Linked DNA regions of Homo sapiens. The protein of the gene in region 3 purifies or fractionates together with the protein of the main gene of each other region. This does not show direct contact. Each region holds a gene or a part of one and is shown on either strand. Other genes may lie near its edges. The genes, in order: NPC1, RNF185 and SIGMAR1.

Region 1 (9,594 bases), on a different chromosome or scaffold from region 3:
TGTCTTTTAATAGTATCTTTTCATTTTAAATAGTATCATGTGTACAAGAAGGGCTAACACACTTTTGGAAAAGATTTTGGGTACGACTGCTGTTAAAATGATGTTCAGCATAGTATAGAATGTTAGATTCATTTTGCCCAAAGGTGCCACTAAAAAGGCAAAAGGTCAACACGTGTCCCGCTGCTGTAGAAGGTGGTCTCAGTCGTCCTGTAGACCCGACGTGGGCGGAGACTCAGTGCACGTGAGAGTGATGTTCACTGGTCCAGTCCCCTGCCGCCTGTGTTCCGAGTGTTTTCCTGATAATGTGGCTGGCTCAGCTTTCCCTTTAGTTTCTCACTTGGTACCTAGCTCTGTAGTGCAGAAATACTCTGAGAACATTGGAGTCCCCCACCGAAGTTTATATGCTTAGAAGACACTGCTAATCGTCTACTAATCATTTATTTTTACCCTTGAGTTAACACAAGGCAGCAAGAAATGGCGTTGTTATTGAGAAATTTTAATGTCGCATAATTTTTTTTTTTTTTTTTTAAGAGAGATGAACGTCTTCAAGGGGAAACCCTGGATCAGCAGCTGGGCAGGGTCCTAGGAGAAGTGGCTCCCAGTATGTTCCTGTCATCCTTTTCTGAGACTGTAGCATTTTTCTTAGGTAATTATGCTTTCAATCCTACCAGTCCTGTAGTCTGCTGAGCCTGGAGAAAGAAGGAGCTGGCTACCTGAACATGTCCCTTTGTGTTGCTTCCTTTTTTTTTTTTTCTTTTTTTTTTTTTTCTCTGAGACGGAGTCTCACTCTGCCACCCAGGCTGGAGTGCAGTGGTGCAATCTCGGCTCACTGCAGCCTCCGCCTCCCGGGTTCAAGCGATTTTCCTGCCTCAGCCTCCCAAATAGCTGGGATTAAAGGCACGTACCACCATGCCCAGTTAATTTTTTGCATTTTTAATAGAGATGGGGTTTCACCATGTTGGCCAGGCTGGTCTCGAACTCCTGACCTCAGGTGATGTACCTGCCTCGGCCTCCCAAAGTGCTGAGATTACAGGCGTGAGCCCCCGTGCCCAGCCCGTGTTGTCTCCTTTTTTTAAGCTTTGTTCTGCACTGGGAAAGTATCACTGGACCACAGAAAAATTGGCAGCAGTAACTTAGGTGTGATTTTGCAAGTGGCTTCCTTCTCATTTAACTGTCAGGACAGCATTGATGTTGGGGTTCAGGGTGAAAGAGACCTAGAGTTCGTCTTGCCACTTTCCCCTTTTAGTAGCCACTGGGAATGTTGATAGTTGAAAATGGCATCCTTGAGTAGCCACTGAATCCTTCTCCACATGACACTCTAAGCAGCAGCTCCCAAATCCACAGGCACTCGCTTACAAGATGTTTGCCGTTGTTTTCAAAGGCAGTCTTTCTCTTCTGTGCACACAACTCATTGGGGAAGCAGCCTTGTTAATGACCAGAAGCTCTTGACTCACCACATTACAAGGAGCCAGAATAAGCTGGAACAAAGTCAGCACTTCTGTGTTTCTTTCACATAGAGAATCATCAAATAGACCCACTAGTGGGGCTGTCTGCCCCATGTCTGAAGTGTAGTAAGAGCAAAGTGACTCTGTCCACTATAGGGGAGGCTGGACTGGAATCACTCAGTCCAAAGAAGACCATCCACGGGCCACAAACTGCAATGCCTACATGGCTGGGAGGTCAGCTTAATCAGGGCCATTGTAAGGTCATTGTAGGTGGTAGTCTTTCACCACAGATACACTGCTAGCTTGTTATTCTTCATCTCCACAAAGCCATGTGCTTTTGAAACCTGTAGCCCTGTAGTTCCTTTTGACAAACACAGGTGCAGAAAAAAAAAAAAAAAAGAAAAAACTTTCTTTTTTTCACTACTATTATAAGAAAACCAGTGCAAGTGTGATGATAATAGCAGCAGAGACTGTGCCTCAAGGTTGGAGTGACCTTGGGACAGTAGGAGTGAGTAGGGATTGTGGCACCCCAACTGCACGTGTCCTATCTAAAAAGACAGTTATGTGTGTGGCCAACCCAGTGCTACAAGGTCTGTGTTGTTGTTGTTGTTTTTCTTCCAAGCAAAGCTGTGAATCTAGATTTTTGTGTAAAATGCCATTGTTAAATATTGGCAACTTATAAAAAAAAGTTTTTTAATCTTAAGATGGGTTGATACAGTGTGGGCTAAACAGGAACCATCTGATTCATGGGCTGCCAGTTTGCAGTTTCCAAGTCTTACCCTCATGCCTTTGATCCTCACTCGATTGTAGATTACCTCTTAACTAAACTGGGAGGCTAGTAGTGTTGATGTAATAAATGGAAAATACTGTCCATTTCTTACAGTGAAGCACAGAAAGTACTATAAGAAATGGCCTGTATTAGTGGTTCTCAAATTTTAATGTGTGTGAATTTGCTGTGAACCTGAGTATAGTAGAATTGGGGTTGAATTCCTGTCATAACTAGGATGGGGCTTCCCAAATGGTCTGGTGCTGAGTGTGCTTTGAAAAGCACTGGCTTATCACCTCCTGTCCCACTTCTGGTGTAATGTCCAGCCGCAGCATGCCTTCTCATGCGTTTGGCCTGTGCTGGCTCCTTGTATCTGTACATGCACATGAACATAAGACCTGCAGAGAGCCCCCGGCTGTAAACAGAAGTGACGCAGAGCCCTTCTCTCCCCGACAGGAGCATTGTCCGTGATGCCAGCCGTGCACACCTTCTCTCTCTTTGCGGGATTGGCAGTCTTCATTGACTTTCTTCTGCAGATTACCTGTTTCGTGAGTCTCTTGGGGTTAGACATTAAACGTCAAGAGGTAAGTTGGTGCCAGGATTATAGTCTATTTAATTTGAGTCTAGAATCTAGAGGAAGCAGCTAGCGGGTATAACCTTTGTTTCCCTCTGTCCCCTCAGAAAAATCGGCTAGACATCTTTTGCTGTGTCAGAGGTGCTGAAGATGGAACAAGCGTCCAGGCCTCAGAGAGCTGTTTGTTTCGCTTCTTCAAAAACTCCTATTCTCCACTTCTGCTAAAGGACTGGATGAGACCAATTGTGGTATGCGCTTATCTGTGGTTTTTCTCTTTCCTCTCACTGAAACAGATTATCACATGCCTTCTAAGAAGCCAGACAGCCTGGGAAGGAGATTCTTAAAGCTGTTAAAATGTATCTAAAAAAAAAGCAAAAGCAAATGTGGAACAGTAGATAAAATGTTTTTCCTGTGAGCTTTTATCAGTCCATATAAACAAGAGTTTTAAGTTTTTTATTTTGAAATAGTTTCAGATTCACAGAAAGTTGCAAAGAAACTTTTATTTTTCCTCTTAATAATGAGGAAATAGAAGCCAAGAGAGGTGAAGTGGTTTGCCCCAAGTCACTCAGCCCGTAAGTGGCAGAGTCAGGATTTGCACCCAGGAATTTGGACTCCTGGTGCTGTGGTCTCACCCACTGCCCTGTACTCCCTATTAGCCTGTCATTTAAGCTTTTCCATTTTAAAAAATCCTGCTTTTTGTGTGTGCTTAAGATTTTATTTCTGGTCGTAAGCTTATTTACTAAGCAGTCTCTGTCTTATGATTCATTTGTTGTTCCAGATAGCAATATTTGTGGGTGTTCTGTCATTCAGCATCGCAGTCCTGAACAAAGTAGATATTGGATTGGATCAGTCTCTTTCGATGCCAGATGTAAGATGACTTCCTTTTTTTTTTTTTTTTAACTTCTTTAGCTGATGATGAATACATTTTTCAAAACATGCACGTAGGTGTTTCAAGCAAGTGCCTGCTTCTAACTGCAAATGGTGACAGGGTTTCCAGGGTTAGGAGAACTGTCGCAGTGCACTGCTGGTGTGGGCTGTCTGGCATTCTGACTGAGCCCCTCTGGGCACAGCTGCAGAACACGAATAACTAGTCTTATGAGGTTACTTTATGAGATGCTCTCCTGATTGTGGGGCTAGCAGGAGGAGCACCCTGGGGCCCTGGGGGGAAGACTGGTGGTGTTAGGAATCATGAGTCCAGCTGGAGGCATCTCAGCCAGGAACCTCCTGGCACCCTCTTATTCTCCATGATCCTCGCCTTGCTTAGTTACTATCAGAGTGTTCACACTCTCTCCTATTCTTTTATCTTTCTTTCAGGACTCCTACATGGTGGATTATTTCAAATCCATCAGTCAGTACCTGCATGCGGGTCCGCCTGTGTACTTTGTCCTGGAGGAAGGGCACGACTACACTTCTTCCAAGGGGCAGAACATGGTGTGCGGCGGCATGGGCTGCAACAATGATTCCCTGGTGCAGCAGATATTTAACGCGGCGCAGCTGGACAACTAGTCAGTACCACCTTGTCTTGTACTTCAGAAGCAGCGGAGGAGGCTCTCAGCCAGGCAGTCAGCTCAGGCCTGAAATGTCTCACTGAAAATAGACTTTCTTGGAAAAGTTGTTTTTATGCAAAATGTATGTTAAATCTGGCTTTACCTTAAAAAACCTTTGAAAGGACTAATTTACCACCTAATACTTTGAAGGCTTTTTTCATTAAGTGCTCATGTAGTTTTTCTTTTGACTGTTAGCAGTATAAAACGTAGAAAAGGAAGTTAGGTTTTAAGAAAAAGTACTGAAACTAAAGACTTCCTCCCTGTGGAGCAGGTCAGTAACCCTGTCTGTCCTCTCTAGTACCCGAATAGGCTTCGCCCCCTCGTCCTGGATCGACGATTATTTCGACTGGGTGAAGCCACAGTCGTCTTGCTGTCGAGTGGACAATATCACTGACCAGTTCTGCAATGCTTCAGGTACCTTCTCCTTTACCAAATCTTTCCTGTTTTGCTGAAAAATTTTCAAATTATCATTTAAAAATCATTTGCATCGTGCCTCAGTTTATACCTATTTGTATATCAAAGCTGGGTCTCCCTGTGTCATCATTCCTTTCCTCAGTCATTCATTCTGAAATTGTCATGTTGTTCCTGGCTCAGACAGCCACCCTCGGGGCTGCAAGCTGAACAAGGTCCACATGTTCGGAGTGTGGTTTCCACATAAGGTTTCTCATCCTGTTCTAACTCCAGCGATTGCCTCTCAGGATTGGTATCTGGCCTTAGCTTCTCAGAGGAGGGCTTTTCTTTATCACTTTACCCTGTGGTTTTGTAGGAGCGTCGAGGTTGCCCTGGAATTTTCTTAATAAAAACATAGAAGCCCCGGGCTCTGACCAGTCAAGGCCATACTTGAAGGAGGAGATCTACTTCAGGGCAGAAAATGATGCATAGTATGCCTAAGATGAAAATGGTATTTCAGATTCATTAAACTGTGAAAGTGACATGTGGCTGAAGCTTTTAGATAAGGGGAAAGATTATCCCTCACTAGTAAGGAAAGTAATCGATAGAGAAGAAAGTAATGCCCCTCACTGTCAGTATTTTAAAATGTTTTACAAAAAATCTGGAGACCTATTCTTCTAACAGTCCTCCCTGCATGTCTCCGCCAGTGGTTGACCCTGCCTGCGTTCGCTGCAGGCCTCTGACTCCGGAAGGCAAACAGAGGCCTCAGGGGGGAGACTTCATGAGATTCCTGCCCATGTTCCTTTCGGATAACCCTAACCCCAAGTGTGGCAAAGGGTAAGTGCTGCTGCCATTGCAGATAAGCATCCACTGCAACTTTAATTTGCAGTAGAAAACTAGGAGAGGACTGGGCTAAGACAGTTGCATGGGAACGTCTCTTCTCCGCCCCACCCTGTCCTGGTCCTTTGGTGGAAGCAGGAAAACCGAAAACACCTTTTTAAGAAAATGCCTCATAGTGTTCAACTGATTCTGTCTTAGCGTGGGCATTCACATCTCATGCTCTCTCTGTGTCCTGGCCCCCTGGGCATGAGAATGAACGCAGATTCCTGTGCACATTCCAAGCGGGGCTGAGGGAGAGGACGGCCTGCTGGTAATCCAGGCCTGAAGGAACTTGGCCTGTTCACTTGTACTGATGGCAGCTGGGGCGTGATCTTAGCTTTAGTAACATTATCCCACATTAAGGTTGCGATTCTTTTAGCCTCGTCATGCTCCTTGCCAGCCCATCCATGTATAGGGTTATGGGCTATCTCACTCCCCCATCCAGCCAGGCAGCCAGTTACCCACGGAAGCCAGATATATGGCCCAAAAATAGTGATGATGACCGGAAGTCTCTGGCCTTGATTTGGAAGCTTTGGGAGGTGGAAGATGAGTATCCCCATGTATGTTAGGTAAACCCTGAACTTAGGTTTTTCATAAGAACATACATCTGACCAGAGTCATATCAGTGAATCATTTATATCATGCATGTGCTTTGAGACCTATTCGAGGTATCATGGGATGACTCCTCCTAAAAGTTAAGTAGAAATGAATCTTGCAGCTTGATTTACTCACTGACTGGATGCTTTGGCCTACGTAAAATAAGTTGAAGTAGATTCAGTTTTTCTGAAGGCAGTAGCCACCGTTCCTGGGGAGCCTCCAGGGTGCCAGCGTCATGCCAGGCACTCCCTGACATTATTCCATTTCTCATCACGCAGCCTATGAGTAGGTGGTGGTATACCCATTTACAGAAGAGGAGACTGGGGCTCAGAGGTGGTCATTTTGCTCGGGGTTACATGACCAGTAAGTGGCAGGGCTGAGGTTGTTCCCAGGGCCCTTGCCCTTTCCTGCTTCCTATTACACAACAGGACTGAGTAAACCCTGTACCTTTGATTATACATGAAACCAGGTGGAGAAACAGCAGCTATGTACCAAAGAACCCAGAGCAATCGAGAAAAGCCCATCTGGCCAGGCGAAGTGGCTCACACCTGTAATCCCAGTACTTTTGGAGGCCGAGGTGGGCGGATCACCTGAGATCACCTCAGGAGTTCAAGACTAGCCAGGCCAACATGGCAAAACCCTGTCTCTACTAAAAAAATACAAAAGTTAGTTGAGCGTGGTGGCAGGTGCCTGTAATCCCAGCTATTCGGGAGGCTGAGGCAGGGAGAATTGCTTGAACCCGGGAGGTGGAGGTTGCAGTGAGCCGAGATCACGCCACTGCACTCCAGCCTGGGCTACAGAGCAAGACTCTGTCTCAAAATAAAAAAAAAAAGAAGCCAGTCTGGGAGAGAACAAGCTAAACCTTTGGTGTTCCCTTATCTGGGGGCCTTCTTCATCCCTGAAATGTACAGCTGGGTCTGACCTCTGAGTCCAGGGTCAGGTGATTTTGCTTAGCCTCAAGTGCTCAGATTCTGCTGATATTTTGCAAGACCTGGACTCTCTTGACACCCAGGATTCTTTCCTCAGGGGACATGCTGCCTATAGTTCTGCAGTTAACATCCTCCTTGGCCATGGCACCAGGGTCGGAGCCACGTACTTCATGACCTACCACACCGTGCTGCAGACCTCTGCTGACTTTATTGACGCTCTGAAGAAAGCCCGACTTATAGCCAGTAATGTCACCGAAACCATGGGCATTAACGGCAGTGCCTACCGAGTATTTCCTTACAGGTAAAGCCTGCCCTTTTTCAATGGGGTTTACCCAGCAAAGGGCCTACACTGGGTGGGAGTGGGGAGGGTTCCCTTGGCAAGATGCTGATTTTCAGGTTGGGTTCTGGCCCCTGCTCCATTCTGAGCACAGGGCAGTATATCAAAGGAAATGGGTGCTGGGCAAAGGAGTTCAGAATCTAAAGTCTCTGTGAAGGCCTGAGGGCTAGAGACGCAAAACTTGATCTCTGCGCCACTGCACAGCTGCAAGAGACACACACTGGAAAATGGCTTAAGGCAGGGGGCGCTTGGAGAGCAGGCGGCTCAGAGCAGGGCCCGGCCCACATTCTTGGCCAACAATGAACCAGAATCCCTAACTGCTGGTTATTTGGGATGCTGCCTGTATGTAGACTTTTTATATTGTTAGGGGTTTTTTTTCCCAGGAAGAAAAGTATTATGTATGAACTACTGAATTTAGAAACTGTAGAAAGGTAGGAGAAACAAGTGATTTATTTTTCCTGCCTCCCCATGATCTCGCTTAAAGCAGGAAGGCCTGGATTTGTTTGGAAGAAGTTAAGAGCCGGTTAGCTCTGGCAGAAAATAAATGAAAGCATGTTTTCCTCAGGCCTTGCACGGACCCCGCTGAGCCTGAGGTAGTGTCTCAGGATAGATCAGGATTCTTTGTTTTTTTGTGTTTTTTCAGAATGCTGTGGAATGCTCTCTGTAAATGTCTATAAAATAGCATAGATTGGGCTTATAAACAGAAACTTTATCAAAAATATACATTTTGCATCACTGCTGGGCCCTTCTCTGGGTGGTCAGTGGCCATGAGAGGTCAAGTGAGTTGCTTTCGGTGAGTCTTGTAGACAGCCAGCAAGGTTTTCTGCAAGGGATGTTTCCCAAAGGAGTCTGACCACTTGGCAGTGGTGACAGGATGAACACGCAGTGTTCGGGAGTGAGAGCGAGCTTTAATGAGGCCTCCCCTCTCCCCTCCAGTGTGTTTTATGTCTTCTACGAACAGTACCTGACCATCATTGACGACACTATCTTCAACCTCGGTGTGTCCCTGGGCGCGATATTTCTGGTGACCATGGTCCTCCTGGGCTGTGAGCTCTGGTCTGCAGTCATCATGTGTGCCACCATCGCCATGGTCTTGGTCAACATGTTTGGAGTTATGTGGCTCTGGGGCATCAGTCTGAACGCTGTATCCTTGGTCAACCTGGTGATGGTGAGTCCTCATACAGTCTCAGTTTGTCCCTAGCTCCTGTTTCACTTGGGGGAATTGGCTGTCTTAGATTCCATGTAAACCCTAAAGATGGAGTAAGATACCAAGTCTGGCGCTTGCTCTTGGCACACATGGAGAGGCAGGATGAGTGCTGGAGGAGTGCTGGATGGTGGTGGGACAGGGCATAGAGGGAGCGAGCATTGAGTTGGACATCTGGGAGCATAGGCACATTACAGGCAATTTCTGTTCAATTTTTTCTCTTGTCCCATTCCTTGCGGCTATACTAGTATACCTGATGGTGCCTCTGACCATGGAAATGTGATTTCCTGGCCTAGTTCTGGGCTAGTCTGCCTGTAATTTGTTATTCTTTAGAGATTGCACAAGCCTGTAGCCTGATGACAGCAGGATGTTCACTTTTTACTTAGAAAATTGCACCCCGCCCCAGGAGCTCTCCGACCAGTGCCTTTTGCCTCCTATGTGGTTATCAGGTACTTTTAATCATTAAAGATGAGAGCACTTGAGAAGGTATTCATGGAAAATAGAACAGTGTATCCGTACTCTCAGATATGAGCCCTGCTTCAGATAGGGGAGCACTGAGGTCCAAGAAAAGAAGTTGTGACAATGCGCCAGCTCGGTGCGGGTGGGGTGACCTTAACGGGTTCCAGCAATTTCTCCTGGTCAACACAAACGTGCCACAGAAAACCAGGCTTTTGGCTGTGTGTAGAGAGGGCCCCAAAAAGTTCCTGGTACAGTAAGATTGGTGTGATGGAGGCCTTGTAAGTCCAATGGGATGCTTGGCCTCCTCTAGCACCCAGGGTGCCCTGGGTAATTAGCACCCATCCTCAGAACGGGGTGGCTGCCTAGGGTCTTCAACAGGAAGAGAGCCATCCTAAAGGAAGTGCTTTATTTCAGAGCTGTGGCATCTCCGTGGAGTTCTGCAGCCACATAACCAGAGCGTTCACGGT
Region 2 (10,538 bases), on a different chromosome or scaffold from region 3:
TCTAGCATACCTTTGGTTTTCTAATCAAACATTATTATGTCCTTATTTTGTGCATTACAAAGCTCTGCCTAAATCACTTTTTCAACACCTGCTAGAATGCTTAGGAATGTTTATGTTGTCTTAGGGAGCAGAGGCTCCATATTATGACCCAGTTCTGCTGACTTGCTCCCCCGCCGCCACAAAAGTTAGGGTTGAGCCAAAACTTCCTGCCAGTTATCGACTTGTGTTTCCCAAGATTAAAAAATAAAAAAGTTGTGAAATGCTTATTCAGATGTTATCCAGGTACTGGGTAAAATGATCTTAATTTGTTGGAGTTTTTAGAACTTCTCGATCTAAAAGTTTCCTTTTAAAGAAGTGTCTGAATTGACATTCTCATAAGTATGTTCTTCAGGCCACTGGTCTGAAGAAGTGGCTCTGAAAAAAGGATTTGATGCTAATAATAAGTTTGAGAAAGCCACATACCATTATTCTTTCTTGGAGCTTCTCAATGTGTAATACCACATTAAAACCACTGAGAGGTCCTGCAATAAGGAAATGTGCCTTATAAGCCAAGATAATAACTTGTTCCATTTGTTTAATCTACTTGATGTCAAATCTTTTTTTTTTTTTTAATTGAAGCACACGTTAGCAAATTCTGACCTAGAGTGGGGATCTGCATACTATATATAGGCTGTGAACCAAACCTGGACCTACTGCTTGTTTATATGGTCTGTGAGCTAAGGGTGCTTTTTACATTTTTCTTTCTTTTTTTTTTTTTTTTAAGACGGAGTCTCGCTCTGTTGCCCAGGCTGGAATGCAGTGGCTCCATCTCAGCTCACTGCAAGCTCCGCCTCCTGGGTTCATGCCATTCTCCTGCCTCAGCCTCCCGAATAGCTGGGACTACAGGCGCCCACCCCGATGACTGGCTAATTTTTTGTATTTTTAGTAGAGGTAGGGTTTCACTGTGTTAGCCAGGATGGTCTTGATCTCCTGACCTCGTGATCTGCCCGCCTCAGCCTCCCAAGGTGCTGGGATTACAGGCGTGAGCCACCACGTCTGGCCTGCTTTTTACATTTTTAAATGATGGGAAATAAAAGAAGAATAATATTACATAGGTGACAATTACAGGAAGATAAAATTTCAGTGTTCATTTCAGTCACACCCATTTATTTATATTCATATATATTTACATATTGTCTTTGGGTGCTTTAATGCTACTCAGTGGAGTTGATTACTTCCCATAAAAACCATATGGTCCACAGAGTCTGAAGTATTTACTCTATGGCCCTTTATGGAAAAAAAATTGCCAATTCCTGACCTGCATCGTGTACATTTTTTTTTTTTGAGACAGTGACTCGCTCTGTTGCCCAGGCTGGAGTGCAGTGGCACGAACATAGCCTACTACAGCCTTGACCTCCTGGGCTGAAGCCATCTTCCCACCTCAGCCACCCGAGTAGTTGGGACTACGGGCACACACCACCACACCCAGCTAACTTTTAGGTTTCTTGTAGAGATGAGGTCTCACTATGTTGCCCAGGCTGGTCTCAAATCTCCGAGCTCAAATGATTCTCCTGCCTCAGCCTCTCAAAGTGCTAGGATTACAGGTATGAGCCACCACTCCCAGCCATGTATTGTTTTTTAACTTTTTATTTTATTTTATTTATTTATTTATTTATTTATTTATTTATTTGAAACGGAGTCTCACTCTGTCCTCCAGGCTGGAGTGCAGTGGCGCAATCTCGGCTCACTGTAACCTCCACCTCCCGGGCTCAAGCAATTCTCCTGCCTCAGCCTTCTGAGTAGCTGGGACTACAGGTGCACGCCACCTTGCCTGGCTAATTTTTGTATTTTTAGTGGAGACGGGGTTTCACCATGTTGGCCAGGATGGTCTCAATCTCCTGACCTCAAGTGATCCACCCACCTCAGCTTCCCAAAGTGCTGGGATTACAGGCTTGAGCCACCGTGCCTGGCCCCTTATTATTATTATTATTATTTTTTAGATGGAGTTTCACTCTTGTTGCCCAGGCTGGAATGCGGTGGGACAGTCTCAGCTCACTGCAACCTGTGCCTCCCAGGTTCAAGCGATTCTCCTGCCCCAGCCTCCCAAGTAGCTGGGATTACAGGCATGTGCCACCACACCTGGCCAATTTTTGTATTTTTAGTAGAGGTGGGTTTCACCGTGTTGGCCAGGCTGGTCCTGAACTCCTGACCTCAGGTGATCCACCCGCCTTGGCATCCCAAAGTGCTGGGATTACAGCCGTGAGCCACTGCGCCTGGCCTTTTTATTTTGAAATAATTTTACTCTTATACTAAACTTGCAAAAATAATTCACAAACTTTCTGTATATCTGTCATCTAACTTCACCTAATGTCAAAACTGTACATAATTATATCAGAATTATCCAAACAAGAAATTTAACATTAATACAATATTACTAGCTAATCTAGAGACTTTATTCAGATTTTGCTATTTGTCCCACTGTGTCCTTTTTCTGTTCCAGGACCCAATCCTGGATCCTACATCACATTTAGTTGTCAAGTCTCCCTGGTCTCATCAGATATCTGGGACAGTTCCTCATTGTCTTTTTTTTTTTTTTTTTTTTTTTGAGACGGAGTCTCACCCTGTCACCCAGGCTGGAATACAGTGGCATGATCTCAGCTAACTGCAACCCCCCTCCCGGGTTCAAGCGATTCTCCTGCCTCAGCCTCCTGAATAGCTGCAATTACAGGCGTGTGCCACCATGCCCAGCTGTTTTTTGTATTTTTAGTAGAGTGGGGTTTCACCATGTTGGGCAGGCTGGTCTTGAAGTCCCAACCTCAGGTGATCCACCTGCCTCGGCCTCCCAAAGTTCTGGGATTACAGGTGTGCCACCACACCCGGCCTGCATTTGCACTAAAATTTATTTTTTTTTTAATTGTTTGTTTTTGAGATGGAATTTCACTCTTATTGCCCAGGCTGGAGTGCAGTGGCGCAATCTTGGCTCACCGCAACATCTGCCTCCCAGGTTCAAGCGATTCTCCTACCTCAGCCTCCCGAGGAGCTAGGATTACAGGCATGCACCACCACGCCCGGCTAATTTTGTATTTTTTTTTTTTTAGTAGAGACAGGGTTGCTCTATGTTGGTCAAGCTGGTCTGGAACTCCCGGCCTCAGGTGATCTGTCTGCCTCAGCCTCCCAAAGTGCTGGGATTACAGGTGTGAGCCACTGCGCCTGGCCATTTGCACTAAAATTTATGAGGGTTCCAGTTTCTCCGCATCCACAACACTTGTTATTGCCCACTAAAAAAATTATATCTCTCCTAGTGGGTGTGAAGTGATATCTCATTGTGGTTTTGATTTGCATTTCCTTAATGGCTGATGATGATGATGATGATGTTCTTATTGGCCATCTGCATATCTTATTTGGAGAAATGTCTGTTTAGATCTTTTGCTCATTTTGTAATTGAGTTATTTGTTATCGTGTACAATTTTGAATGTAGGTATTCAAAGAGTTTGCAGATCTCTTGAAATAACTCAGTGATTTGACCTGCAAATTCTGAGGCAATGCCAGTATGTCCCTGATCTGAATGTAGTTGGATTTGGACATACTAAAGCACAAAGTAAATTTCCATTTGAGGCTACTGACCATGCAGAGCTTGACTCAAACCCAGCCACTTCTGGCCATGTGGAGTTGGAGTGGCCATGGGCAAGTGAAAGGAAGGGTACTATTTGCGTCCAGAAATGAGGTTGTCATCCAAGATATGATAAGACTAGTCAGGGAGCCTTCATTTTGGGTGCCACTCTGCTGTATGTCTGGTTATAGGCAGGGAGTAGAGGAGTCAGTGGTGGTTTGAATGCTCAGGACTAGCTGCTCATAGCTACATAACTACAGTGCTCCTAGGCCTATCTTGACCCTACAGCATTTGGCCATAACCAAACCATCTTGGACACATACCTTGAAACAAACAAAAGCTTCAGTAATGTAAATTGTGAAAGTAGTATGTGCTTATTTTATTATTATTTTTTTTTAGAGATGGAGTCTTGCTCTGTTGCCCAGGCTGGAGTGCAGTGGCACAGTGTTGACTCACTGCAGCCTCCATCTCCCAGATTCAAGCAATTCTCGTGCCTCAGTTCCTGAGTAGCTAGAATTACAGGCAAGTGCCACCATGCCCGACTAATTTTTGTATTTTTAGTAGAGATGGGGTTTCATGATCTTGGCCAGGCTGGTCTCGAACTCCTGACCTCAAGTGATCCGCCCACCTCAGCCTCCCAAAGTGCTGGGATTACAGGCATGAGCCACCATGCCCTGCCGATGTGCTCATTTTAGACATTTTGGGAAATACAGAAAAATCTCCCTCTCCCCACCCTAGTCATCCCTAGCTCTAGTATCTAGAGAACCTTTGTTGCAGTTGCTATATTTCCTTCTTGTTTCCTGCTACGGGGCACATTTTTAATAGTTGGAATCACTCACTGTACACAGGTCCATATCTTGCTTTTTCTTATTAACATCTAAAACTGAAGAAAACACACACTTTAATTTTAATGTCTCCATGTTTTTGCCAGCCTCTTCTATAAGCATTTCTTCTTCTTCTTCTTCTTCTTCCCCTTCCCCTTCCCCTTCCCTTCCCCTCCTCCTCCTCCTCCTTCTTCTTCTTCTTCTTCCTCTTCCTCTTCCTCTTCTTCTTCTCGAGACAGAGTCTGGCTCTGTTGCCCAGGCTGGAGTGCAATGGTGCGATCTTGGCTCACTGCAACCTCCACCTCCCGGGTTCAAATGATTCTCCTGCCTCAGCCTCCCGAGTAGCTGGGATTATAGGTGCCTGCCACCATGCCCAGCTAATTTTTGTATTTTTGGTAGAAACGGGATTTCACCATGCTGGCCAGGCTGGTCTCGAACTCCTGACCTCAGACGATCCACCCACCTCAGCCTCCCAAAGTGTTGGGATTACAGGCGTGAGCCACCACACCTGGCCTATAAGCGTTACTTCTGATGGCCTACATAGATTTCCATTTCCTTAACTGTTCATTTATTTAATAAGTCTTACTATGTAGACGTAATGTGTATAATAAGTACTTGGTGTGTTCTTAGTGGGATAGAAATGTAGTTTTGATTTTTAAATAAGGAGCATAGATTTTCTTAAAATTTTTTTTATTGTGGTAAGATGTACATAACAATATTTACTGTTTTAACTAATTTTATCTATTTAAATTTTTTTTGAGATAGGGTCTCACTCTGTGGCCTAGGCTGAAGTGTAGTGGCAACTCACTGCAGCCTCAACCTCTGAGGCTCAAGCAATCCTCTTGCCTCAGCCCCCTAAAGTGCTGGAATTACAGCAGTGAGCCATTGTGCCTGGCCCATTTTAATTATTTTTAAATGTACAATTCAGTGGCATTAAGTAAATTCACAATGTTGTATAACCATCACCACTATTTCTAAAACTTTTTCAGCATACCAAACAGAAACTCTACCCATGAAGCAATAACTCCTCATTCTCTCCTCCCCCCAGCTCCTGGTAACCTCTGATCCACTTTCTATCTGTATGAATTTGCCTATTCTGGATATTTCTAATAAGATTCTAATAAGAAAATCACACAATGTATGACCTTTTATGGAAACGTAGGGGGGTTTTTTCCTTTTTTTTTTTTTTTTTTTTTGAGACAGTCTCACTCCGTTGTCACCCAGGCTGAGTGCAGTGGTGTCATCTCAGCTCACTTCAACCTCCGCATCCTGGGTTCAAGCAATTATTGTGCTTCAGCCTCCCAAATAGCTGGAATTACAGGCGCTCACCACCACACCTGGCTCATTTTTGTATTTTTAGTAGAGATGGGGTTTTGCCATTTGCCCAGGCTGGTCTCGAACGCCTGACCTCAAGTGATCCGCCTGCCTTGGCTTCCCAGAGTGCTGGGATTATAGGCATGAGCCACCGTACCTGGGCCCAGTTTTTTAAATTGTAGTGAAATTCATATAAAATTTACCATCGTAACCATTTTTTTAAATGTACAGCTCAGTGGTATTAAGTACATTCATGTTCTAGAAACATCACCACCATCTACCTCCAGAACTGTTTTCATCTTGCAAAAGTGAAACTCTGTGTCTATTAAACAATAACTCCCTATTTCTTCTTCCCCCTAGCCACTGCCAACCACTATTCCACTTTCTGTCTCTATGATTTTGTTTACTCTAAGTACGTCATATAAGTAGAATCATACAGTATTTGTCCTTTTTATTTTTGAAGATGAGGCCTAACCGTGTGGCTGGTGTCAGACTCTTGGGTTTAAGTGAACTTTCTGCCTCAGCCTCCCAAGTAGCTGGGGTTATGTGTGGGCACCACTGCACCCAGCTTAGTATTTGTCTTCCTTTGACTGACTTACTTCACCTAACATGATGTTCTTGAGGTTCATTTATGTTGTAGCATATGTGAGAATTTTTCTTCCTTTTTAAGATAAAATGATTTTCCGTTGTATGTATTTTGCTTATCCATTCATCTGTCGATGCAAACTTGGATTGCTTCCATGTTTCAGCTATTGTGAATACTGCTACTGTGAACATTGATGTATAGCTATTTCTTTGCGACCTTGCTTTCAATTATTTGGGTACATACCTAGAGGTAGAATTGCTGGATCATATGGTAGTTCAGTTTTTAATTTTTTTGAGGAGCCTCTGTGCTGTTTTCCACAGCAGCTGTACCATTTTACATTCCCACCAACAGAGCACAGGGGTTCTATTTCTCTACATCCTTGCCAAAACTTGTTATTTTCTGGTGTTATAAAAATAGTAGTCATTCTGATGGTATCTCATTGTGCTTTTGATTTGCATTTCCCTGATGATTAGTGATGTTGAGCACCCTTCTGTGTACTTTTGGGACATTTGTATTTCTTCTTTGAAGAAATGTCTCTATTCAAGTCCTTTGCCCCCCCGCCCCACCACCACCCTTTAAAAATTTTTTTTGAGACAGAGTCTCTCTCTCTCTTGCCCAGGCTGGAGTGCAGTGGTGGAATCTGGGCTCTGCAACCTCCACCTCCTGGGTTCAAGCAATTATCTTGCCTCAGCCTCGCACGTAGCTGGAAGTACAGGCGTGTGCCACCACACCTGGCTAATTTGTTTTGTATTTTTAGTAGAGACAAGGTTTCACCATGTTGCCCAAGTTGGTCTCAAACTTCTGACCTCAAGTGATCTGCCTGCCTAAGCCTCCCAAAGTGCTGGAATTACAGGCCTGAGCCACCATACCTGGCCCCACTTTTGAATCAGGTTGTTTGTTGTTAAGTTTTAGGAGTTATCTATGTATTCAGGATATTAATTCCTTTTCAGATATATGATTTGCAAATATTTTCTCCCATTCTGTGAATTGCCATTTTACTCTATTGGTAGTGTCTTTTTATGCACAAAATTTTTAAATTTTTATGAAATCCAATTTGTCTACTTTTTCTTTTGTTACCTGTACTTTTGGTGTCATTCCAAGAAATCATTGCCAGAAATATAGTTTTTAAAGTCATGACCAAGTGGCTCCTGGTTTAAAATTCTCAGAGGCGGCCCTAATTGCTGCCTGGTTATCATACCCTACTTCTCTTTTTTTAATTTTTAGTTTTTTAAAGACAGGGTCTCTCTGTCGCCGAGGCTGGAGTGCAGTGGCGTGATCTCAGCTCACTGCAACCTCTGCCTCCCGGACTCAAGCAGTCCTCCCACCTTTGCCTCTTGAGTAGTTGGGACCACAGGCATGCGCCACTGCTCTTGGCTAATTTTTGTATTTTTTTGTAGAGATGGGGTTTTGCCATGTTACCCAGGCTGGTCTCAAACTTCTGGGCTCAAGTGATCTGCCTGCCTCCACCTTCCAAAGTGCTGGGATTACTGGCTGAGCCACCACACCCAGCCTTCAAACCGTACTTCTCTACTCTGCATCTGCTGTAGATGACAGGAGTCCATCTCTTCATTTCATTGGTCGTTGGGAACAAAGCTCCCGAGTGTTGGATCCTTGTCTTCCAGCTGGCCTAAGGACATGCAAAGATTAGAAGCAGCACTTCTATGTTCATTGAGCCAGATTGTGTCTGCTTCTGTGGAAATGGCCTAGGGGACTCACTGGCCATTCTGTCCTGGGTCCAGTTGCCAGGTTAATTCCTGTGATAGTTTCTATAGCACCTGACTCTGATACTCGCTCTCTTAATTGCTCCTCAGAAGTGCCTTGTGATGTAACAGTGATGTGGTTTTTTGTTTTTTTTTTTTGTTTGTTTGTTTGAGACAGAGTCTTGTTCAGTCGCCCAGGCTGGAGTGCAGTGGTGCAATCTCTGCTCACTGCAAGCTCCGCCTCCCGGGTTCATGCCATTCTCCTGCCTCAGCCCCCCGAGTAGCTGGGACTACATTTGCCTGCCACCAGGCCTGGCTAATTTTTTTCGTATTTTTAGTAGAGACGAGGTTTCACCATGTTAGCCAGATGGTCTCGATCTCCTTACCTTGTGATCCACCCGCCTTGGCCTCCCAAAGTGCTGGGATTACAGGCATGAGCCACCACCTCTGGCCAGATGTGGTTTTTATTTTTTATTTATTTTATTTATTTATTGAGACAGAGTCTCACTCTGTCACCCAGGGTGGAGTGCGGTAGTATGATCTCAGCTCACTGCAACCTCCACCTCCAGGGTTCAAGCGATTCCCATGTCTCAGCCTTCCAAGTAACTGGGATTACAGACATGTGCCACCACACCCAGCTAATTTGTATTTTTTAGTAGAGATAGGGTTTCACCATGTTGGCTAAGGTGGTCTCGAACTCCTGACCTCAGATGATCCACCCACCTTGTACTCCCAAAGTGCTGGGATTACAGGTGTGAGCCACCACGCCTGGCCAGGTTTTTATTTTTTAATATTTATTTATTTATTTTTGAGACAAGGTCTTTGTATGCTGCCCAGGCTGGTCTCAAACTCTTGTCCTCAAGCAATCCTCCTGCCTCAGCCTCCTGAGTAGCTGGCATGTTCCACTGTGCCTGGCATGTGGGGGTTTTTAAAGATGGACAGGTCTCTGAATACAGGAGTGGATCCTGGGCAAAGCCTAAGGAAGTTTGTTGTTTTTTCTTAACACTATCATCTCTGCCAAGGCACTTCTTAGTGTGAGAAGCTTTTTGTTTTTTAATAGTTACATTCTGACTTGGTTATAAACTCCTTGAGCACAGGAACCAGGACCTTCTCTGATTTACTTATTTATTTATTTATTTATTTATTTATTTATTTTTGAGACAGAGTTTTGTTGCCCAGGCTGGAGTGCAATGGCGCCATCTTGGCTCACTGCAACCTCCGCCTCCTTGGGTCAAGTGATTCTCCCGCCTCAGCCTCCCTAGTAGCTGGGATTACAGGCGCCCACCACTATGACCAGCTAATTTTTTTTTTTTTTTGGTGTTTTTAGTAGAGACAGGGTTTCACTATGTTGGCCAGGCTGGTCTTGAACTCCTGACCTCAGGCGATCCACCCGCCTTGGCCTCCCAAAGTGCTGGGATTACAGGCGTGAGCTACTGCACCCAGCCCTGATTTATTTTTATCATGGGTCTGGTAGTTGGCATTCTCTAAGTGTTTGCCAAACAGCACTGGTAACAAATACAATGGAGGTGGCTCAAGGCACAAGAGCAATTTGTAAAAGTCAATATTATAGACTTTTCAAAATGGTATCATTTTGGTTTTATCTTTAATCACAGTTGGTCCTAGTCAGGACCTTCTGTTGAAAGAAGTGAGAGGCTGGGCATGGTGGCTTGTGCCTGTAATCCCAGCACTTTGGGAGGCCGAGGCAAGCGGATCACCTGAGGTCGGGAGTTTGAGACCAGCCTGACCAACATGGAGAAACACCATCTCTACTAAAAATACAAAATTAGCCAGGTGTGGTGGTGCATGCCTGTAATCCCAGCTACTCAGGAGGCTGAGGCAGGAGAATCGCTTGAACCTAGGAGGCGGAGGTTGCGGTGAGCCAAGATTGCGCCATTGCACTCCAGCCTGGGCAACAAGAACGAAACTCCATCTCAAAAAAAAGAAAGGAGAAGTGAGATCATTGTTTTGTCAAGTATATACCGGGTATTAAAATTTAAAAAGTTTTCTACTTAATTGGTTAGATCTTGTCAAACTTATTGTTTTTATACTCTACCTTCAGAATATCTTAGAGGTCTTTAGCTCAACCTCAGGTAAAATATGAATTAATGACATTTTATAGAATATGAATTAATGAGATTTCACTGACTGTGTGAAAATAAAAGTGAAACCTGGCCAGGTGTGGTGGCTAATGCCTGTAATCCCAGCATTTTGGGAGGCTGAGGCGGGCAGATCACTTGAGGTCAGGAGTTCGAGACCAGCCTGACCAACATGGCGAAACCCTGTCTCTACTGAAAATACAAATAAATTAGGCAGGCATTGTGGTGCACACCTGCAATCATGAATTCAGAATATTAATCTTACTGCTTCCTCATTAATTTCTTTGTCTAATAGGGGCTAGGCACTGTTTCATACTTATTTAAAATAACAACAAGGCTGGGCGCGGTGGCTCATGCCTGTAATCCCAGCACTTTGGGAGGCCGAGGCAGGCGCATCACCTGAGGTCAGGAGTTCAAGACCAGCCTGGC
Region 3 (11,066 bases):
TTTATCAGGAAAGTGAAGGAATAAAAAAATGGCCACTCCATAGACAGAGCACCCCTGAGGGCTGCTGGTTATCCATTTATATATATATATATATATATATATATATATATATATATATATATATATATATATATATAATTTTTTTTTTTTAAGACGGAGTTTCACTCTGTTGCCCAGGCTGGAGTGCAGTGGCTTGATCTCGGCTCACCGCAACCTCTGCCTCCCAGGTTCAAGTGATTCTCCTGCCTCAGCCTCCCGAGTAGCTGGAATTACAGGCACCCACCATCATGACTAGCTAATTTTTGTATTTTTTAGAGACAGAGTTTCACCATGTTGGCCAGGCTGGTCTTGAACGCCTGACCTCAGGTAATCTGTCCATCTCGGCCTTCCCAAAGTGCTGGGATTACAGACATAAGTCACCACACCTGGAAAGGCCTGGAAAAGCTTTCTGAAAGACCAGATAGGGGAGGTGTAGGCCCAGATGATCCCAGAAAGCTGTTCCTGGAATGGGGAGCAGAGACCAAATTTGGGGGCTAATCCCTGCTGCCCAGGGTTCTTAGTGAATTGTCGAGTCGGGAATGCCACAGAAGCCAGAACCAATACAAAAACATGTTCCCTCAATCCTGTATTCTCCTCTAGATAATCCTTTCTTTATCCTTAATTTCTCTGCCAAGTTTCTTTTTTTTTTTTTTTTTTTTTTTTTTTAGATGGAGTCTCGCTCTGTCGCCCAGGCTGGAGTACAGTGGTGCAATCTAGGCTCACTGCAACATCCGCCTCCTGATTCAAGTGATTCTCCTGCCTCAGCCTCCCCTGTAGCTGGGATTACAGGCGTGCACCACCACACCCAGCTAATTTTTGTATTTGTAGTAGAGACAGGGTTTCACCACGTTGGCCAGGCTGGTCCCAAATTCCTGACCTCAGGTGATCCGCCTGCCTCTGCCTCCCAAAGTATTGGGATTACAGGCGTGAGCCACCGTGCCCGGCCTGCCAAGTTTCTTAAAAACAGAGGCCATCTTTCTGGTCTCTACTCTTAGCTGCATGGTATATTGTAACACATCTTTTGCCCTATATTTGTCAGGGTAAGTAATCTTAATTGCTGTAACAAACACTCCCAAAACTCAATGGCTTAGCACTACAGTCAATTCTGGGGGTAACAGGGAGCTCTGTTCCAAGCAGTATTTAGGGATCCAGGTGCCATCCATCTAGTAGCTATGCCATGTCCTAGGGTCTCAGAATACTCCACTAGAGATCCTCTATAACTACAGTAATAGACATGGGAAGAAAGAAAATGTAAAGAACTTCAAGCTGGGCATAGTACTATGTGCCTGTAGTCCCCCAGCTCTTGGGAAGCCAGGGTGGGAGATCACTTGAGCCCAAGAGTTTGATACCAGTCTGGGAGTGACATAGCACAATCCTGTCTCTTAAAAAGAGAAAGAGAAAAAAAAAAAAAAGAATTTCAGAGGAGACTTTAGGAGCCAGCCCTAGAAATGTCATACATCATTTCTATCTATATTTCATTGGCCAGAATGCAATCACATGATCCAGAGTAGACTGTGGAATGTAATCTAGCTGTCCAAGAGCAAAAGGAAATGGATTTGTGAATGTATAGCATTGTCTCTGCCACATGCCCCTACTGAGAAGTCTAATGATCATTTCCCATCATCTCATTGAATCTCACCATTATATTTCACTGTGTTAACCCTTCATTCCATCACTCTTTTTTTAATTTTTTTAGATGGAGTTTCGCTCTCATTGCCCAAACTGGAGTGCAATGGCGTGCTCTCAGCTCACCATAACCTCCGCCTCCCAGGTTCAAGCGATTCTCCTGCCTCAGCCTCCCGAGTAGCTGGGATTACAGGTATGCGCCACCACGCCTGGCTAATTTTGTATTTTTAGAAGAGATGGGGTTTCTCCATGTTGGTCAGGCTGGATCTTGAACTGGCAACCTCAGGTGATTCCCCTACCTCGGCCTCCCAAAGTGCTGGGATTACAGGTGTGAGCCACCGTGCCTGGCCCATTCCATCACTCTTGAGAAAGAAAAGAAACTTTTTATCTGAGAAATGCCAGCCTCTTTTAATTATCAGGCCCAGAGAGGCATTAAAATGTGACAGCATGGGCCTGGCGCGGTGGCTCACGCCTGTAATCCCAGCAATTTGGGAGGCCAAGGTGGGCGAATCACGAGGTCAGGAGTTCGAGACCAGCCTGGCCAACATGGTGAAACCCTGTCTCTACTAAAAATACAAAAAATTAGTTGGGCATGGTGGCGGGCGCCTGTAATCCCAGCTACTCAGGAGGCTGAGGCAGGAGAATTGCTTGAACCTGGGAGGCAGAGGTTGCAGTGAGCCAGGATCATGCCACTGCACTCCAGCCCCGGCGACAGTGCAAGAGACTCCGTCTCAAAATAATAATAATAATAATAATAATAATTTTAAAAAGAAAAAAAAAGGCCGGGTGCAGTGGCTCACACTTGTAATCCCAGCACACTGGGAAACCAAGGCGGGCGGGATCACTTGAGGTCAGGAGTTTGAGACCAGCCTGGCCATTATGGTGAAACCCTGTCACTACTAAAAATACAAAAAGCTGAGCATAGTGGCAGGTGCCTGTAATTCCAGCTACTTGGGTGGCGGAGGCAGGAGAATCGCTTCAACCCGGGAGGCGGAGGTTGCAGTGAGCCGAGATTGCGCCACTGCACTCCAGCCTGGGCGACAGAGTATGACTCAGTCTCAAAAAAAAAAAAAAAAAAAAGTGACAGCATGTAACAGCAGTCATATCTCACCTTCCCCCACCCCCATGGAGCCAAATAATTACCCCTTGAAGCCACTTGCTATGTGGGCTCTAAATTGATACCACATAGCCATAAAATGCCATAGTCTAGACACCATAACTCATACCCTATAGTTCAACAAGGTATAGCCAATCACTAATCAATGTTGTTTCTGTAAGCCAATGAGAATTCCTGTTAAACAATTTTGTGTCAGCCCACTCCTTGTCCTCTTTTGCCTTTAAAAACTTGCTTGTGGCTGGGCATGATGGTTCATACCTGTAATTCCAGCACTTTGGGAGGCCAAGGCAGGATGATCCCTTGAGCCCAAGAGGTCAAGGCTGCAATGAGCTGTGATCGTGCCACTGAACTCCAGCCTAGGTAACAGAGCAAGATCCGGTCTCAAAAAATAAAAATAGGCCGGGCGCGGTGGCTCACGCCTATAATCCCAGCACTTTGGGAGGCCGAGGCGGGCAAATCACGAGGTCAGAGTTCAAGACCAGCCTGGCCAACATGGTGAAACCCCATCTCTACTAAAAATACAAAAAAATTAGCTGGATGTGGTGGCAGGTGCCTGTAGTCCCAGCTACTCGGGAGGCTGAGGCAGGAGAATTTCTTGAACTGGGAGGCAGAGGTTGCAGTGAGCCGAGATTGCGCCACTGCACTCCAGCCTGGGCGACAGTGGAGACACCATCTCAAAAAAAATAAAATTAAATTAAGTTAAAATAAAGTGGCCAGGTGCAGTGGCTCACACATGTAATCCCACACTTTGGGAGGCCGAGGAGTGTGGATCACCTGAGGTCAGGAGTTAGAGACCAGCCTGGCCAACATGGCAAAAACCTGTCTCCACTAAAACTACAAAAATTAGCCAGGCATGGTGGTGCACACCTGTGGTCCCAGCTACTCGGGAGGCTGAGGGAGGAGGATAGCTTGAACCTGGGAGGCGGGAGTTGCAGTGAGCCAAGATTGCACTACTGCATTCCAGCCTAGGCAACAGAGTAAGAATCCATCTCCAAGAAAATAAAAAATAAAAATAAAAACCACATATAAAAATAAAAAATGCTTGTATCAACATTCCCCAAGGCAACTTGGAAAAGTGTCCCGAGCAGTCGTTCTCTACCTTGGCCCAAATAAACTCTCTATATTAATTTTGCCTCAGCTTTTTTTTTTCCTCACTGTTGTTTTTGTTTGTGTGTTTTTCTTTTTTGAGACAGAGTCTCACTCTGTCGCCCAGGCTGGAGTGCAATGGTGCAGTCTCCACTCACTGCAACCTCCACCTCCCGGGTTCAAACGATTCTCCTGCCTCAGCCCCCCAAGTAGCTGGGCCAAGTGGGTGGCACGCGCCACCGCGCCCGGCTAATTTTTGTATTTTTTAGTAGAGATGGGGTTTCACCATGTTGGTCAGGCTGGTCTCGAACTCCTGACCACGTGATCCACCTGCCTCGGCCTCCCAAAGCGCTGGGATTACAGGCGTGAGCCACCCCGCCCAGCCTGTTTTGTTTTTTTTGAGACGGAGTTTTGCTGTTTCACACTGAGGCTGCAGTGCAATGGCGTGATCTCGGCTCACCGCAACCTCTGCCTCCTGGGTTCAAGTGATTCTCCTGCCTCAGCCTCCTGAGTAGCTGGGATTACAAGCATGCGCCACCACGCCCAGCTAATTTTGTATTTTTAGTAGAGACAGGGTTTCTCCATGTTGGTTAGGCTGGTCTCAAATTCCCAACCTCAGGTGATCCACCCGCCTCGGCCTCCCAAAGTGCTGGGATTGCAGGTGTGAGCCACAGTGCCCGGCCCCTTTTTCTTTTCTTTTTTTTTTAGAGACAGGGTCTCCCTCTGTTGTCCAGGCTGGAGTGCAGTGGCACGATCTTGGCTCATTGCAACATCCACCTTCTGGGTTCAAGCGATTCTTCTGCTTCAGCCTCCCGAGTAGCTGGGACTACAGGCACCTGCCACCACGCCCGGCTAATTTTTTGTATTTTAGTAGAGACGAGGTTTCACCATGTTGCCCAGGGTGGTCTCGAACTTCTGAGCTCAGGAAATCTGCCTGCCCACCTTGGCCTCCCAAAGTGCTGGGACTACAGGTGTGTGCCACTGTGCCTGGCCCTTTTTTTTTTTTTTTTTTTTTTTTTTTTTGAGGCAGAGTCTCCCTCTGTTGGCTCAACTGCAACCTCCACTTCCCAGGCTCAAGCGATCCTCCCACTTCGGCCTCCTGAGTAGCTGGGACTACAGGTGTGCGCCCCCACTCCTGACTAATTTTTGTACTTTTTGCAGAGATGGGGTTTCACCATGTTGCCAAGGCTGGTCTCGAATACCTGGACTCAAGTGTTCCGTCTGCCTCAGCCTCCCAAAGTGTTGGGATTACAGTTATGAGCCACCTCGCCCGGCCTCAGTTTCTTTCTTTAAGGTCAAAAATGTATGAGGCTACTTTTTTCCAGTTCCTTTATGTTTTATATATATAACCATCACATAAAATTCTCACCATGTGAGGCACTAACTGCTTTATAAATATTAACCCATCTAATCTCATCACAATGAAGATATGTACTATGAGGTAGGTACTTATCTCCATTCCATTTTACAGGTAAGAAAACTAAGTTACAGAGATTTTAAGTAAACTGCCCAAGATCAGACAACTAGTAGGTAGCAGGAGCCAGGCCTTGAACTCAGGCAGTCCAGCTCCAGAGTTTATTTCTTAATCACTGCACAATGCTACCTCTTTTCTCTTTTGTTTCTTTTCCTTTTTGCTTTCTTCTTCCTCTGCCTACCCTTTGCTGTTGGTGCTCTCCAGGGCTCTGTCTTTAGCCTTATCTTACTCTATTCTCTCTCCCTGTGAGATTTCATCCATTCTTAGAGGTTTTCTGTAGACTCTCCAGTGAGATCTCTAAGCTGGGGAGTAGGACCATTGTTTCTAGCCATATCCCTAATGGCCACCACAGAACTTGGCACATACAAGTGCCAACAAAGTATCTGAATGAATGACAACTCCCAGCTCTATCTCCAGACTGGAGCTGAGCTTCGAGACCTGGACACTCAACTGCCCACTAGACATGCAAAGGATGTTAGCCAAATAAGGGGAAAGTGGGGATAGGATAAAGGGGGAAAGAGTATTCCAGGAAGAAGAGATCAAGCCCTGCCAACTCCATTTCCAGAGTTGTTAAGCTCATTTCTTTCTTCCATCTCCACTGACACAGACCTTCCCTCTTACCTGGCCCACAGTCATGGTCTCCCTGACTCATCTTGCTCCCCTCCACTCGACAGTCCTGTGCCACTCGGTGGCAAAATCTAATCCCCTTCCTCCCTTGCTGATAACCCTCAGCTGGTTTACAAGGCCTCCTCTCACATTTTGTGCCGCAGAACAGAGAAGGAATTGTAGGCCCCTGAAGACCCCAAGCTGTCTCTCCTCGGAGGCCTTTGCTCTAGGGGCTGGTCCCTGTGGGCTGGCATGCCCCTTCTGCGAGCTCTTAAAGACACTGCTCAGGTGTCACCGCCTCTGGAATGCCCACCCTGGGGCTCCCAGCTTGAACTGCCTCCTCTCCGCTTCAGTCCTGGTAAAGGCGGGCCTTAACAATCGTTGAGTCCCAGAAGGCTTCACTTCCGGGCTCGTCTGCTTCACCAGCCAGTGAGCTCGGGCGAGCCCGTCCATTCTGGGTCTCACTATCCCCACACCTATCCGTATGTAGAGTGGCGCTAGCTAGGTCAGACCTCGCCTGAAGACCCTGACATCTGCCGCTGGGCGACTTGGCCCCGCCCCCTTGCCTCCCTTGCGCGGCACCGCCCCACTCCTCCGTGCTCCCCCCGAGGAAATGGTTCAACCGAAGGGCGGTGCCAAGGTGCCCGGGCCGCTCCGATTGGTCAGGGCGAGCCGTACCACGGCGGTGGCGGGGGAGCGCTTCGTGGGCAGCCGGCGGGCTCCGAGGCCGTGAGCGCAAAGCCTCAGGCCCCGGCTCCCTCCTGAGCTGCGCCGTGCCAGGCCGCCCGCCGGGATGCAGTGGGCCGTGGGCCGGCGGTGGGCGTGGGCCGCGCTGCTCCTGGCTGTCGCAGCGGTGCTGACCCAGGTCGTCTGGCTCTGGCTGGGTACGCAGAGCTTCGTCTTCCAGCGCGAAGAGATAGCGCAGTTGGCGCGGCAGTACGCTGGTGAGCGGGCAGAGGGCAGGGAGGGGAGCGGCCGGCCTGGGAGCGGAGCCTAGGGTTCCGAAGGCGCCATCCCCGGACCTAGGACCGGTGCCAGCCCTGACTCCGCCGCCCCTCTGCCTCCGCCAGGGCTGGACCACGAGCTGGCCTTCTCTCGTCTGATCGTGGAGCTGCGGCGGCTGCACCCAGGCCACGTGCTGCCCGACGAGGAGCTGCAGTGGGTGTTCGTGAATGCGGGTGGCTGGATGGGCGCCATGTGCCTTCTGCACGCCTCGCTGTCCGAGTATGTGCTGCTCTTCGGCACCGCCTTGGGCTCCCGCGGCCACTCGGGTCAGTGCTAGCGGCGGGCCAGACTGGGAGGCTGGGGTTGTAAAGGGGCCCATGCCCTCCTTTCTGATGTTTGGCTGGGCCATGCAATGGCGCGAATACCCTGATAGTGTCATGTGCGATTGTCACTCAGGGCGCTACTGGGCTGAGATCTCGGATACCATCATCTCTGGCACCTTCCACCAGTGGAGAGAGGGCACCACCAAAAGTGAGGTCTTCTACCCAGGTGGGTAAGAAGGCTCTGTCAGAGAAGTGGGTCCCTTCACGCGGGGGGTGCCCACAATTGCGGGGAGCATGGCATGGAAAAGGAGTGTGTTGGGGGGGCCCTCCTCATGGTTCCCTTCCTCCACCCTCCCATAAGCCACAGGTGATTGGTTGGGGCAGAGCTGAGGGACTCTTGCTTTCCTCTGTCAAGGGGAAACAAAACATAACAACTTCCTATTAAACATGTCTGATTTTTATCTGCCCAGGCACAATTTTGCCCAGACAGTATTCCAACAACTGTTGGGGAGACAATGGGTAATCAGAAATGCTCTCAATACCCCAAAAGACAAGACAGACAGTTATCTTTTTATTTGTTTGTTTTTTGAGATGGAGTCTTGCTCAGTCGCCCAGGCTGGCGTGCAGTGGCGCGATCTCGGCTCACTGCAAGCTCCGCTTCCCGGGTTCACGCCATTCTCCTGCCTCAGCCTCCCGAGTAGCTGGGACTACAGGCGCCCGCCACCACGCCCGGCTAATTTTTTTTGTATTTTTAGTAGAGACGGGGTTTCACCATACCAGCCAGGATGGTCTCGATCTCCTGACCTCGTGATCCACCCGCCTCGGCCTCCCAAAGTTCTGGGATTACAGGTGTGAGCCACCGCGCCCGGCCGCTCCCCTGCCTTTTTTTTTTTTTTTTTTTTTTAATAGTGAAACAATTTACTTAAGAAATAGAGCACTGGACTTCCCAGTATATTTGAGGTTGGGTGTATGCATCGCAGGCATGGTGGTTGAACAGCTACACTTTTCAGATAAAGCCTCACAAGTCCTGGAACTACCCCTTTCCTAGCTACAAGCCCAGCCCAGGTTTAGCTAAATTTCTGCTTGATTCGAGTGAGGCTTGGGAGTGCAGACTTCCATACAGTGGGTCCATGGCCAAGCGAGGTAGCCGTCCATGGCTTCTCCAAAGAGAGGACGTGGGTCAGATGATGCCACAGAACATTTAGGAGTGGCCATCTGGGCCAGCCCAGTGAGGTAGGGCTTTTTGTTTTTCTGAAGCTCCCTCTCCATTCCCCACCCCTAGTTAGTCCATGGGCCAGGGAAGCAGCAGCCATGGAAGGGCAGGGCAGAGCTGGCTTTTCACTTGGGTGCTCCCTGTCCCCCAGGGGAGACGGTAGTACACGGGCCTGGTGAGGCAACAGCTGTGGAGTGGGGGCCAAACACATGGATGGTGGAGTACGGCCGGGGCGTCATCCCATCCACCCTGGCCTTCGCGCTGGCCGACACTGTCTTCAGCACCCAGGACTTCCTCACCCTCTTCTATACTCTTCGCTCCTATGCTCGGGGCCTCCGGCTTGAGCTCACCACCTACCTCTTTGGCCAGGACCCTTGACCAGCCAGGCCTGAAGGAAGACCTGCGGATAGACAGGAGCGGGCAGGCCCGCACATATCCACTTGCTGGAGCCCATGTTTACAGACAGGGACATACACCATGCAGATCCTGAGTTCCTGCTGTATGAGCAGGGATATCCATGCTTATGTATCCAAACACAGAGACCCATGGGAACAAATGAGACACATATAGATACTGAGACCTGTGTGTACAGTAGGACCATGCACTCACACCCATCTGGAGAGGGAGCCCCCGGTATACCAAGGGAGCCAGTTGTGTTCAGACACACACATCACAGCTTGACTCACTAACTGAGGCCTTTCCATAGCTCCACAGCTTCCCACCTCCTCCCCACCAAACCGGGGTTCTAGAGTTAAGGATGGGGGAGGGTATTATACTGCCTCAGTCTGACTCCTCAACCCAGCAGCAATTTGAGGGGATGAGGGGGAAGAGGAGCTGCCTTTTGGAGGCCCCCTTCACCTGCAGCTATGATGCCCTTCCCCTTCTCCCCTGTCCTCACCATATGCCTTATCCCCATTCTACTCCCCTGCTATGCAAGTGCCCCTGTGGCTTGTCCCCAACCCCCTCAGCAACAAAGCTCAGCTGGGGAACGAGAGTAATTTGAAGAATGCTTGAAGTCAGCGTCTTCCATTCCAGAAAGACCCCCATTCTTCCTTTGGGGGTATGATGTGGAAGCTGGTTTCAGCCCAGGACCCACCACTGAGGAGAGGATCTAGACAGGTGGGCCTAATTCCAAGGGGCCCTTCCTGGCCTGGAGAAGGCCTTTTACACACACACAACACATACACACACACACACACACACACATATCACAGTTTTCACACAGCCCCTGCTGCATTCTCTGTCCATCTGTCTGTTTCTATTAATAAAGATTTGTTGATCTGTTCCATCTTTTTGTGTGTCTGAGCAGCCGGAAAAAGCCTCTGACCCCTGGGGACCTCAGGAAGATCTCTCTCTTGCTGTGTGATTCATGGTAGATTTTTTTTTTTTTTTTTTAAGAGATGGGGTCTCCTCTGTTGCCCAGGCTGGAGTGCAGTGGCACAGTGACATGATCATAGCTCCCTGCAGCCTTGAACTCATGGTCCCAAACAATTTTCCTGCCTTAGCCTTATGAGTAGCTGGGACCTTATGAGTAGCAAATGCCACCATGCCTGGTTAGCTTTTTAAATTTTTTTTAGAAATGGGGTCTTGCTATGTTGCCCCGGCTGATCTCCAGCTCCTGGCCTCAAGTGATCCTTCCTCAGTCTCCAGAGTAGCTGAGATAACAGAAACAAGCCACCATGCCTGACAAGACAGTGGCTTTTGACTAGTAGGGACTATATACTTGAGTGTGCCTTAGAATCACCTAAGACACTCTTTGAGTCAGTAACTCAGACTACTGAGCTCCATTGCCAGAGATCAACATGTTCAATAAGATTTCTTCCAACACAGCTGCGAATGCCACAATTTGAGAAATTCAGGGCAGGGTGACCTGGAGTGTGTCTTGGTCTTACCTCTGCCGGTGCAATCCTGGGAACAGTCCTAAGAATCTTCCCCTGGCTGACCACAGGGTGGCAGTGTGCACCCACTTTTTAGCTGAAAGGCATAGTTCTCAGTTGGCTTTTTTTCTGGGCTCCCAGAGTAGTGTCTGCCCCCACCCAAAACAGGAGATCCTCCAGTCTATGGTCTGCCTTCTCCAGGACCCACCACTAATGTGGAGGCTCCCACAATGAAAGGAAGGCACACTACCTGGCAGTATGTGAGGTAGGTAGGGCCTGGACTCAGGTAAGGCAAGAGAGGTGCCTAAAGTGCATTCATTCCCAAAGACCCTGCTCTTGCCTTAACTTCTGCATTTTACACACCAAGCATGCCTCACCCTCGTCCTGGCCCTGTTCTGAGGGTAAGGCATAGATCACTCCTGCTTCTCAGGATTCCTGGTATTTTAAAAATGGAAGAAACATGGTTATAAAAATTAGATATTTTAACATTCTAAAGAACACAAATCCGAAAGACTATATGTATAACTGCATTTAGAAACAACATCAAAAGTCAATTTGTGACTGAATGTGGAGTCCAGGTAAGTTGGCCAACCTGAAACCGACTCTTCACCCCCAATACCACCGTGTCAGGCATAGTAGGCCCTGGCTGGCTCCTCTCCACTCACCCCAGGTTGCAAATCCATGCCTCCTGGGGGATTCCTACTCTGTAACCCAGCTCTGCCTCTAGGCTCAGAGCCCACATGTCAGGGATGACCCAGCT

Evidence for each region.
Region 1: the proteins of SIGMAR1 (region 3) and NPC1 purify together in Homo sapiens (affinity purification with mass spectrometry; 3 studies listed by BioGRID and IntAct, with this or other methods). This does not show direct contact.
Region 2: the proteins of SIGMAR1 (region 3) and RNF185 purify together in Homo sapiens (affinity purification with mass spectrometry; 3 studies listed by BioGRID and IntAct, with this or other methods). This does not show direct contact.

Annotation. Positions count from the first base shown.
Region 1 is NC_000018.10:23,534,507-23,544,100, reverse strand, and holds part of NPC1 (NPC intracellular cholesterol transporter 1 precursor), read left to right. Parts: intron 1-531; coding exon 532-646; intron 647-2,667; coding exon 2,668-2,795; intron 2,796-2,892; coding exon 2,893-3,033; intron 3,034-3,563; coding exon 3,564-3,653; intron 3,654-4,099; coding exon 4,100-4,290; intron 4,291-4,630; coding exon 4,631-4,746; intron 4,747-5,429; coding exon 5,430-5,559; intron 5,560-7,224; coding exon 7,225-7,428; intron 7,429-8,400; coding exon 8,401-8,632; intron 8,633-9,541; coding exon 9,542-9,594. UniProt on the Homo sapiens protein: Intracellular cholesterol transporter which acts in concert with NPC2 and plays an important role in the egress of cholesterol from the endosomal/lysosomal compartment.
Region 2 is NC_000022.11:31,162,023-31,172,560, forward strand, and holds part of RNF185 (E3 ubiquitin-protein ligase RNF185), read left to right. Parts: intron 1-10,538. UniProt on the Homo sapiens protein: E3 ubiquitin-protein ligase that regulates selective mitochondrial autophagy by mediating 'Lys-63'-linked polyubiquitination of BNIP1.
Region 3 is NC_000009.12:34,633,373-34,644,438, reverse strand, and holds SIGMAR1 (sigma non-opioid intracellular receptor 1), read left to right. Parts: upstream 1-6,651; 5' UTR 6,652-6,741; coding exon 6,742-6,892; intron 6,893-7,018; coding exon 7,019-7,219; intron 7,220-7,326; coding exon of another isoform or gene 7,327-7,349; coding exon 7,350-7,442; intron 7,443-8,580; coding exon 8,581-8,807; coding exon of another isoform or gene 8,808-8,821; 3' UTR 8,822-9,717; downstream 9,718-11,066. UniProt on the Homo sapiens protein: Functions in lipid transport from the endoplasmic reticulum and is involved in a wide array of cellular functions probably through regulation of the biogenesis of lipid microdomains at the plasma membrane.